2 linked regions of the Homo sapiens genome follow. The protein of the gene in region 2 interacts with the protein of the main gene of each other region in a pairwise test. Each region holds a gene or a part of one and is shown on either strand. Other genes may lie near its edges.

The links.
Region 1: the proteins of DCAF13 (region 2) and WARS1 interact in a two-hybrid assay, tested with the Homo sapiens proteins (one large-scale study listed by BioGRID and IntAct).

What each region holds. Positions count from the first base shown.
Region 1 is NC_000014.9:100,368,021-100,373,026, forward strand, and holds part of WARS1 (tryptophan--tRNA ligase, cytoplasmic), read right to left. Parts: intron 1,239-5,006; 5' UTR 1,166-1,238; coding exon 1,067-1,165; intron 1-1,066. UniProt on the Homo sapiens protein: Catalyzes the attachment of tryptophan to tRNA(Trp) in a two-step reaction: tryptophan is first activated by ATP to form Trp-AMP and then transferred to the acceptor end of the tRNA(Trp).
Region 2 is NC_000008.11:103,421,287-103,426,292, forward strand, and holds part of DCAF13 (DDB1- and CUL4-associated factor 13), read left to right. Parts: intron 1-4,769; coding exon 4,770-4,859; intron 4,860-5,006. UniProt on the Homo sapiens protein: Part of the small subunit (SSU) processome, first precursor of the small eukaryotic ribosomal subunit.

The DNA of each region.
Region 1 (5,006 bases), on a different chromosome or scaffold from region 2:
TTGGGTCGACAGTGAAGAAAGACGCCAAGATGGGCAGTGTAGGAAGCAAGAGCCCCCACTTCAGAGGGAAGCAGGCAGAAGGTTTTGGGAGAGATCGCCTCAAGAAGATGAACTTGATAGACTAGTTGATGTGTGTTGAAAGGAGATTCACTGGACAGGGAAAGGGCTTGGAGATACATTATCATTAGTATCATTGACATAAAAAAGTCAAGCAAACAGATATTAAGACAAATATTAACTCCAGAGAAAACAAAAGCTGGGCGAGAAAGTTAGAGTACTCATTCTATCCGTGATGGTTCAGCTGTCCACGTCTATTTCCATGGTCATAATAATGTCAGTGTACAGATACTGACCTAACTACAACTGCAATACAGATGGGGAGACTGCCTGGACGGGAAGTGGTTGTGAAGGTACGAATGCTTCATTTCCACCTGAAAGACCCCAACTTGAAAATCAACAAGGAACAATATGATAAGCAGAATATTTACAGATATGGGGAGTACATAACCAAAAGATCGGCTAAAAGAATTGAGCAGGAAATAGGGAGAGGTGGGCTGGAGGGCCACTGTATTTCACAAAGGCTTTGAGAACCCCTGACTCTTTAGACCACAGGCATCCCAATGTTGATAAAGGAAAAATACATTTAAAACTATAACCAAGGCTGGCGTGGTGGCTCATGCTGGTAATCCCAGCACTTTGGGAGGCCAAGGTGGACAGATCACCTGAGGTCAGGGGTTTGAGACCAGCCTGACCAACGTGGTGAAACCCCCATCTCTACTAAAAATACAAAATTAGCTGGGTGTGGTGGTGCATGCCTGTAATCCCAGCTACTTGGGAGGCTGAGGCAGGAGAGTCACTTGAACCCGGGAGGCAGAGGTTGCAGCAAGCTTAGATTGCACCATTGCACTCCAGCCTGGGAAACAAGAGTGAAATTCCCTCTCAAAAAATAAAAAATTATAACCAAAACACCTCAGTCATTGAGGAAACCATCTATTCTAGAGGAACACAACCCTACAGACTTGGGAGGCTCAGCTGCCTTCGTGGAGAACCCAGCAAAATCATGTACCTTTGACGCATTTCCCGCTTTGAGGGACCTTACGAGCTCCCCTTGTGTGGCGATGCTGTTGAACAGCTCCAGCAGAGATGCGGGCTCACTGTTGGGCATGTTTGCTATCTCTCAGGAACTACGTTCACAGCCGGCCTGAGGTCAGAGGATTTGTTCAGCAGACGAGTCAAGACTGGGGTGGGGGCGGGGAAGGAGAGAGAGGAAAAACCAGAGGTTAACACAACATCGCGGCTGTTTTTCCTTTCCTGTATTGAGTCCTTTTTTCCGAAAAGGTTGTGAGGTGAGTTACAGTAAAGGACATAGATAATATAATAAAAAGAGAACCAGAAATTTGGGGCCATGAAGAAGAGGAAAACCATCAAATGCCAGTGATGAAGACTAAAGGAGTGGCTAGGATTTACTGACTTAAGGTGTGAATCTACTTGACTAGGAGGGGCCCTCCTAGTCAAGATCAAGTTTGCATCTGGTGATGCCCCTGTGCCCCCACCCAGTGCCCAGAACACAGGAGGACTCCTGTTTGCTCAGGGTATAAATACCAATGTGTTTTAATGAACTTAAGTTCATTGCTAAAAACTTTTGGCAAATTACTATTTGATTTTTTTTTTTTTTGAGATGGAGTCTCGCTCTGCCACCCAGGCTGGAGTGCAATGGTGTGATCTTGGCTCACTGCAACCTCCACCTCTGGGGTTCAAGCGATTCTTCTGTCTCAGCCTCCTGAGGCTGCCTGCCACCATGCCCAGCGAATTTTTGTATTTTTAGTAGAGGGAGGGTTTCACCATGTTGGCCAGGCTGGTCTTGAACTTCTGACCTCAGGTGATCCTCTCACTTCAGCCTCCCGAAAGTGTTGGGATTATAGGTGTGAGCCAAGGCACCCATCCTCTATTTGTGGTTTATCTTAATTGCCTTGGGGATGAATTCTTGGGCTTTTGCAGCCATAACTAATATATCGCTGAGCAAATGTCTTCCACTGCTGGTCAGCTGCTCTCAGACAAAGTGAGCTCTGGGGTGGAGGACAGGGCCTTACCTGTCCTAGGTTCCACATGAGGTAAGGACTGTCTCCAGTCTGTCCATTCCACGTGCTGCCTTATTTAACTACAAGCCTTTGCAGAAGGTGTGTCTGCACCTCCTATTAGTCATGATTCATTATAACCCTTGCAGGAAGTGGGGACATGGCAGACAGAGACTGTATCGCCATCAAACCTTTCTTGGCTCAATCACTTCCTAAGAGTCAAGTTTCCTAACCTATAAAATGGCGCCACCAGGAACTTCATCTACCCCAGGCTCTTATGAGAACAAAATGAGAAAAAAAAGGCATGGTAGCACTTTGTAAACTGTAAAGCAAGATGTAACTACGTTACGAGTGCTGTTATTAAATTTCTTGTGTTTCTTAGGATTCCAAAGATTGGCTGAACTCCAGCTTCATTTTAACTTGCTGTAAAACCTTGGAGAAGGAAAATGACAAGGCTAGTGCCTGAGCTGCTAACTTTGAACACCTCTGTACCTGTTATTGTTCTAAGCACCGTATATGTATCAATTCACTTAAGCCTTGCAGCAGTCCTATGAAATAGATTTGTAATCTCCATTTTATAGATGAGGCACAGAGGGGTTAAAAAAAACTTGCCCATGGCTGGGCATGGTGGCTCATACCTGCAACCCTGGCACTTTGGGCAGTATAGTGAGACTCTACAAAAAAATGAAAAAAAAAAAAATTAGCTGGGCATGGTGGTGGGCCTGTAATCCCAGCTACTTGGGAGGCTATAGCAGGAAGATCACTTGAGCCCAGGAGTTCGAGGCTTCAGTGAGCTACGTTTGCGCCACTGTACTCCAGCCCGGGTGACAGAGTAAGACCCTGTCTCTAAAAATAAAAATAAAATAAAATAAAACTTGCCCATGTTAACATCACAAGGAAATGGCAGAGATGCGTTATAGACTCTAGTAGTTTGACTCTAGAGCCTACACTTTCAACCATTATCTTACAAATGACTTATCTTTATGAACCAAACATATACATTTGTGGTGTCATTTATTTTACTCTATCCTATCCATTTGTTAAATATTTGCTTTAAAAGTACGTAAATTGGCTGGGTGTGGTGGCTCACGCCTATAATCCCAGCACTTTGGGAGGCTGAGGTGGGTGGATCACCTGAGGTCAGGAGTTTGAGACCAGCCTGGCCAACATGGTGAAACCCCGTCTCAACTAAAAATAGAGAAAAATTAGCTGGGCATGGTGGCGCACACCTGTAGTTCCAAATACCTGGGAGGCTGAGGTGGGAGAATTGCTTGAAACCAGGAGGTGGAGGTTTCAGTGAGCTGAGATCACACCACTGCACCCCAGCCTGGGTGACAGAAAGGTTCTGTCTCAAAAAAAAAAAAAAAAAAAAGTAGGCCAGGTGTGGTGACTCATGCCTGTAATCCCAGCACTTTGGGAGGCCAAGGAGGGTGGATCAAGACCAGCCTGGCCCACATGGTGAAACCCCATCTTCACTAAAAATACAAAAATTAGCCAGGCATGGTGGCATGTACCTGTAGTCCCAGCTACTTGGGAGGCTGAGGCATGAGAATCACTTGAACCTGGGAGGCAGAGGTTGCAGTGAGCTGAGACCATGCCACTGCACTCCAACCTGGGCAACAGAGAGAGACTCTGTCTCAAAACAAAAAAAATTCCAAAAAGTATGTAAATCACGGGTGCTGTGAGCGGTGGCTCACAACTGCAGTCCAAGTGCTTTGGGAAGCAGAGGCGATTGCTTGAGCTCAGGAGTTCAAGAGCAGCTTGGGTAATGTCAGGTCTCTGAGCCCAAGCTAAGCCACCATATCCCCTGTGACCGGCACGTACACATCCAGATGGCCTTAACTGATGACATTCCTTCACAAAAGAAGTGAAAATGGCCTGTTCCTGCCTTAACTGATGACATTCCCTTGTGAAATTCCTTCTCCTTGCTCATCCTGGCTCAAAAGCTCCCCTGCTGATCACCTTGTGACCCCTGCCACCTGCCCGCCAGAGAACAATCCCCTTTGACTATAACTTTCCTTTACCTACCCAAATCCTATAAAACGGCCCCACTCCTATCTCCCTTCCATGACTCTCTTTTTGGACTCAGCCCGCCTGCAGCCAGGTGAAATAAACAACCTTGTTGCTCACACAAACCCTGTTTGGTGGTCTCTTCACACGGACACGAGTGACACGAGTGAAAGGTAACATGGATAGTGAGACCCTGTCTCTCCAAAAAATTTTTATAAAATAAAAAAACAAAAATTGAAAAAAAAGTATGTAAATCAAAACTTATTTAATTCAATGAAACTATAATACTGAAAACCGGGACAGGACAGCAGCCAGTTTCTTTCTCCTCCTTGATGAGAACCACCTCAGTTCCCAGAAAGGGAGGTTTGGTGAGATAACTGACTCAGATAAGAAAGCATCCAGTTTAGGGAGGAATGCCGGAGTACCCTCTGCCTAGGGCTAGAGAGAACTCTCAGGCTCTCCCATTCCCTCCCCAGCAACAAGCTGAGCAAATCAGTCGAAATCCATTTCTCTCTAAGGTCTCTGTCCATATCAAATAACGATCAAACTCATGAAAATTACTTCTAGCCACAAATCATCAATCATCATGTCCAGAAACCTATCCTGAATTCTCCCAACTCTCAAAGCTGGGTGTTACTCTATGTGCCCTGCAATAGCAGACAAGAGGCTGATGGCTCCATTACCAGGGAGTAGCTAAGCCAGAATCTGATTCCCAAGCCCCCTTGCTCATGTGCTCTCTCAGAATCCCTGCTGCTCCCTGCTGCCTGCCTGCCTGCCTGCCTGAAATGTCTCACACCCTTCTCTGCCTGAACTCTGCTGATTGATTATCTTTCCAATTTGAACCTCAGCTCTTCACAGCCTCTCCTGACACCTATGCTTCTGGGAACAAGTTGGTTGCTCCATCCTTTGTGATCCCCAAAC
Region 2 (5,006 bases):
TTCAATTTACCACAAAAGTGGAATTAATGAGAGGTAAGTCTAGAAAGAGTTTGGCTTACTCTGGAGGATTTTTGATGCTAAGATGAGTAATTTGTACTTTTGTTAGTCAGATAATAAGGAATCATCGAAGTTTTGTGCCTGTGTGTGGCAAGATATCCGGAACGTAAAATTTACTCTCTGTTTTTAAATATACAGTTTGGTGGCATCCAGTACATTCACATCACTGTGCAACCATCACCACCATCTGTCTTCAGAACTTTTTCATCATCCCCAGCTGAAACTATAGTCATTAAACAATAACTCCTCTGTCCCCTCAGTCCCCAACCCCTGGTAACTACTATTTTACTTTTTGCCTCTGTGATTTTGACTATTCTGGGTACCTCATATAAATAGAAGCATATTTTAAAGAATTATACCATTTTGTGTATGTGGAATAAGGCTTTTGGGTCTGGCTTATTTTACTTAACATAATTGTCTTCAAGGTTTATCCATGTTGTAGTACATGTCAGAATTTCCTTTCTTTTTATGGCTAAATAACATTCCATTGTATGTGTCACATTTTGTTTATCCGTTCATTCATCAATGAGCATTTGATTTGTTTCCACCTTTTGGCTATTGTGAATAGTGTTGCCGTGACCATTGGTGTACAAATACCAATTCAAGTTCATTGAAAGTCTTTTTAAACAAGGGGAACGACAAAATCTGAGCTGTGCTTTGAGTTAAGTAATTTGACAGCAGTTAGTGATCAGTTTGAAGGCCATTTTAATAGTTTGGCAGGCAATAATAAGAGGCTACCTTATTATGGAGACTGAAAACTAGAAATCAGTGGTTGATACTTTGGAGGATTGACAGGTTTGACAACTGAGAGGTGCCTGGGAAGAGGTTGGTTCCTGTTGCTGAGGAGTACCAGCAAGTTTTGAAGGGTGGCAATGGGAAGGATATGATGTGACAAACTGGACTGCTAATGGGCTGTTCGAGTGAAGATGTCTGTCATACCTTTACAGATGCAGGTCTGGAGCTCAGGAGGGAGGTCAGAGCTGAACTTGACATCATCAATATAGAACTAATCATTGAAGCCATAGTATGGCATCATTGGGAGGAAATGAGGAGGAAAATATAGAAATACAAAGATGTCAAGGAAGTAGCCTTGGGGAATGCCCACCTCTGGGAAGTGGGAAAACTCTAGGAGTAGCCAGAGCTCAAAGAATCTGTGAATGAGCATAGTGTCCTAGGAGGAAGGAATAGTCAGTTTTGTGAACTACTACAAAGAATAATGAAAAATGAAGACTGAGGAAAACATTTTAGAAATGTAGAGATGTAAAAAATAGAAAATTAAAGATTGCATAATTCTAGTCTTTCACTTCTAACACTATTAGTTTGGTGTATGTCTTTTCAAGTGTTTTGACCTACCTATACAACAGTTTTTGTATACACATGCGCTAATCAGTCAAATAGATCTTCCTTATTCTTTATTTACTGGTGACTTTTTAAAAAACAGGTTGAGCTGAGTTATAAAATGTAGGTTGCAATCCAGGTTGGCTGGGTGCAGAAGCTAGATTGCAAGAGAATAATAAAGGGAAAAGATGACTTCTGGGAAACCTGATAGCTACAATTTGAAAGATTGTCATGTGAAAAAGAAAATAGACTAATTTGTTGCTCCATAGAGAGGCACTGGAAATAGGTGTTAGTGTTAAAAGATTCGGTTTTGGTGTAAAAAAAAAAAACTTATTTGCTGTCAAAAAGCAGAATAGGCTACCTTGCAAAGCATTCAGTTACTTTTCACTAGAGGGGTGCAGATAAGCTGCCTGACCCTGCAAGCCCAGTGTTGTGCAAGGAATTGATTGGCAAGTGGGAATGGATGGCACCTAAGGCTTCTTACACTTGGTTATTCTCTTGGATATATTGATTAATAGCTCAGCCAGAGGACTTAGTGTATTTTTTTTTAATGCTTAAAATGAATAAAGGCTCATTTGCAGCATTATTCACAATACCCAGGATATGGAATCAACCTAAAGTGTCCAGCAATGGATGAATGAATTTTAAAAAAAAAAGTACACACACACACGCACACAGGAATACTATTCAGCCTTCAGAAAGAAGGAAATCCTGTCACTTGCAGCATACATGAATGAACCTGGAGGACATGATGCTAAGTTAAATAAGACAGATACCACATGATCTCAGTTGTGTGGAATCTAAAAAAGCCAAACTCTTAGAAATGGAGTAAAATGGTCATTACTAGGGGCTTTGAGGGAGGGAGATTGGGGAGATGTTGGTCAAAAGAGACAAAATTTCAAATAGATGGGATGGATGTTGTACAACACTGTGATTATAGTTAATAACAACATGCTCTCTTGACAATTGCTATGAAAGTGAATTAAATGTTCTCACCACAAAATAATAAGTATGTGAGGTAACAGATATGTTAATTAGCTTGGTTTATCCATTCCACAGTGTCTACGTGTATCAAAACACAATGTTGTACATCATAAATATATATCTTTTATTTGTAAATTAAATAAAAAACATTTTAAGAAATGAATAAAGACTGAAAATGTTTCATATTCACCACTTATTTCCCCCCACTTTATTTTTTTAAAGAGACAGAGTCTTGCTACGTTGCCCAGGCCGATGTTGAACTCCTGGGCTCAAGCCTGTCTCAGCCTCCCAAAAAGTGTTGGGATTACAGGCATGAGTCACCATGCCCACCTTATTGTTTCTCGGTTTTTCAAAAAGATTTTTTTTTTTTTGAGATGAAGTCTCCCTCTGTCGCCCAGGTTGGAGTGCAGTGGCATGATCTCTGCTCACTGCAAGCTCTGCCTCCCGGGTTCACGCCATTCTCTTGCCTCAGTCTCCCCAGTAGCTGGGACTACAGGTGCCCACCACCACTCCCGGCTAATTTTTTTATTTATTTTTATTTTTAGTAGAGACAGGGTTTCACCGTGTTAGCCATGATGGTCTCGATCTCCTGACCTAGTGATCCACCCGCCTCAGCCTCTGAAAGTGCTGGGATTACAGGCGCGAGCCGCCATGCCCAACCAAAAAGATATTTTTGAGTAATGTGTGCTTTGTCAGAGATAAGACACATGTGAAGACTACTTGCTGGTACAACTTTAAGAATGTTTTTAAAAATTTTAGTACACAGTGTTGCAAAACATAAACTTTTATTACCTAAAACTTCACTAAGATATACCAGTTTGTAATACCAACAATTCCTTCTTCAGCATAACCAGCCTGGAGATGAGATGTTCTAGCCAGGCACATATTCTTGTTCGGCTACTCATTTCTATAAAATGAGAAAACCCTTCCCAGAATTGGTGGTCCGCTGAGGTTTGTACTCAGTAGACGGCAGAACAGCTTGGTCATTTACAAGCAAATTCAGTCTTGAGCTTGCAGACACTATCAGAAACTTGATGGAGGGATAGCGTCTTCAGGAACGGGGTGCTCAGGGACACAGTTTATCCTGTATTCTGTAAGTGCTAAAATGTCTCTTTGGGTCAAGCCAGATCAGTCAAGACCTGGTACCTAGATTACATCTTAGTCTCCCAGTAGAATCAGGTTTCTAGAATTGAGTTTTAGTATAGTGCCAGTGGCTCAGATTCATAGTTGTTAATAAGATGTAGCCCTATTAAATACTTTTTGTCTATAACAAGGATGTAGTTAAGGATTCTGTTCATCGACATCCTCAACAAAAGACATCGCTGTGTAATCTTAGTACCAAAACCTTTCCTGATCACTTATCTGTTTTCATCTCATGGGCACTGTAAACTGTTTTGCAAGAAGCGTTTTCCTTTTTGAATTTGCTGTAAGAAAAGAGCTACATTCATACTCTTCCCTTAGATAAAGATATCTTTGTTAATGATTTTATCAAAAAGTGGATATAGATTGCATCTAATATATAAATGTAAGATTTTAAGTTAAAACTAGCAGTTTTGTATGTATGCAGTTATACAGTACCACATTTATGATTTTGTTTTCAACCTCAAACTACATTATATGTTCTGTTTTGTAGTCTGTTTCACCTGATAGCTTAAACATGTCTGCCAAATACCCATGTCTAAATTACCATAGTTTGTTGCTTTGCCTTGATTTGGGCTAACGTGCCAACAGTTTTGCTCACTGTTGCTTTTTTACTATTTGTGCAGCTGTCAGCACAGTGAAAAGACAAACTATGTCTTTACTAACATTATGAAAATAGTTTTGACTGTGTGGACCCTGAAAAGTTCTCAGGGTCCTCCAGAGGCCCAAAGTTCACAGTTTGAAAACCACTGACTTAGTAGTTTCTGCAGTTCATGCAGAAAAGGACTTTATCTATTTCAATATTATAACAATGCCTTCTCTCCAGTATTTTCATGTTTTTCATTTTATTTTTTACATTTAAAATTACCTGGAATTTTATTTTCACATAAGGCATCAAATTGGCTCAATTTTTTTGAATGACTAACCAGATATTATAATACCATTTTTTATAATCCATTTTTTCTCCAAGTTGAAATGCCATGTTTATCACAATATGCATGACCTAACTTTGCCCCTGTTCTTGTTTTTCTTTTGCTCTACTCATTATATTTTTAGTTTTATGTACTTTATGTATTTGTCACAAATCTTTACTAAAACAAGGTGGGATATAAATGGATCAATAAGTGTAATACTGGAATGATATGGTATGTTACCTGTTTTAAACAAGATACTTATTTGATATGTGTTGGCAAGTTTTAATTTATAACTGTTGTTCCTTACCATCATCATAATAAAACAAATATTTCTAGGTTGGTGATGACAAAACTGTGAAGCAGTGGAAAATGGATGGGCCAGGCTATGGAGACGAGGAAGAGCCATTACATACAATATTAGGAAAGGTACAAAAGTAAATTGACTAATAGCTTGCCTATTAACATTCTTTTATTTAAAATTATTTTATAGTTATAATTTCCTAAGATGGGGAAGAAGATGCAGATAAGAAACGAAAGACTTTAGGCTGTAATTGTTGACCCATTTACGCAATA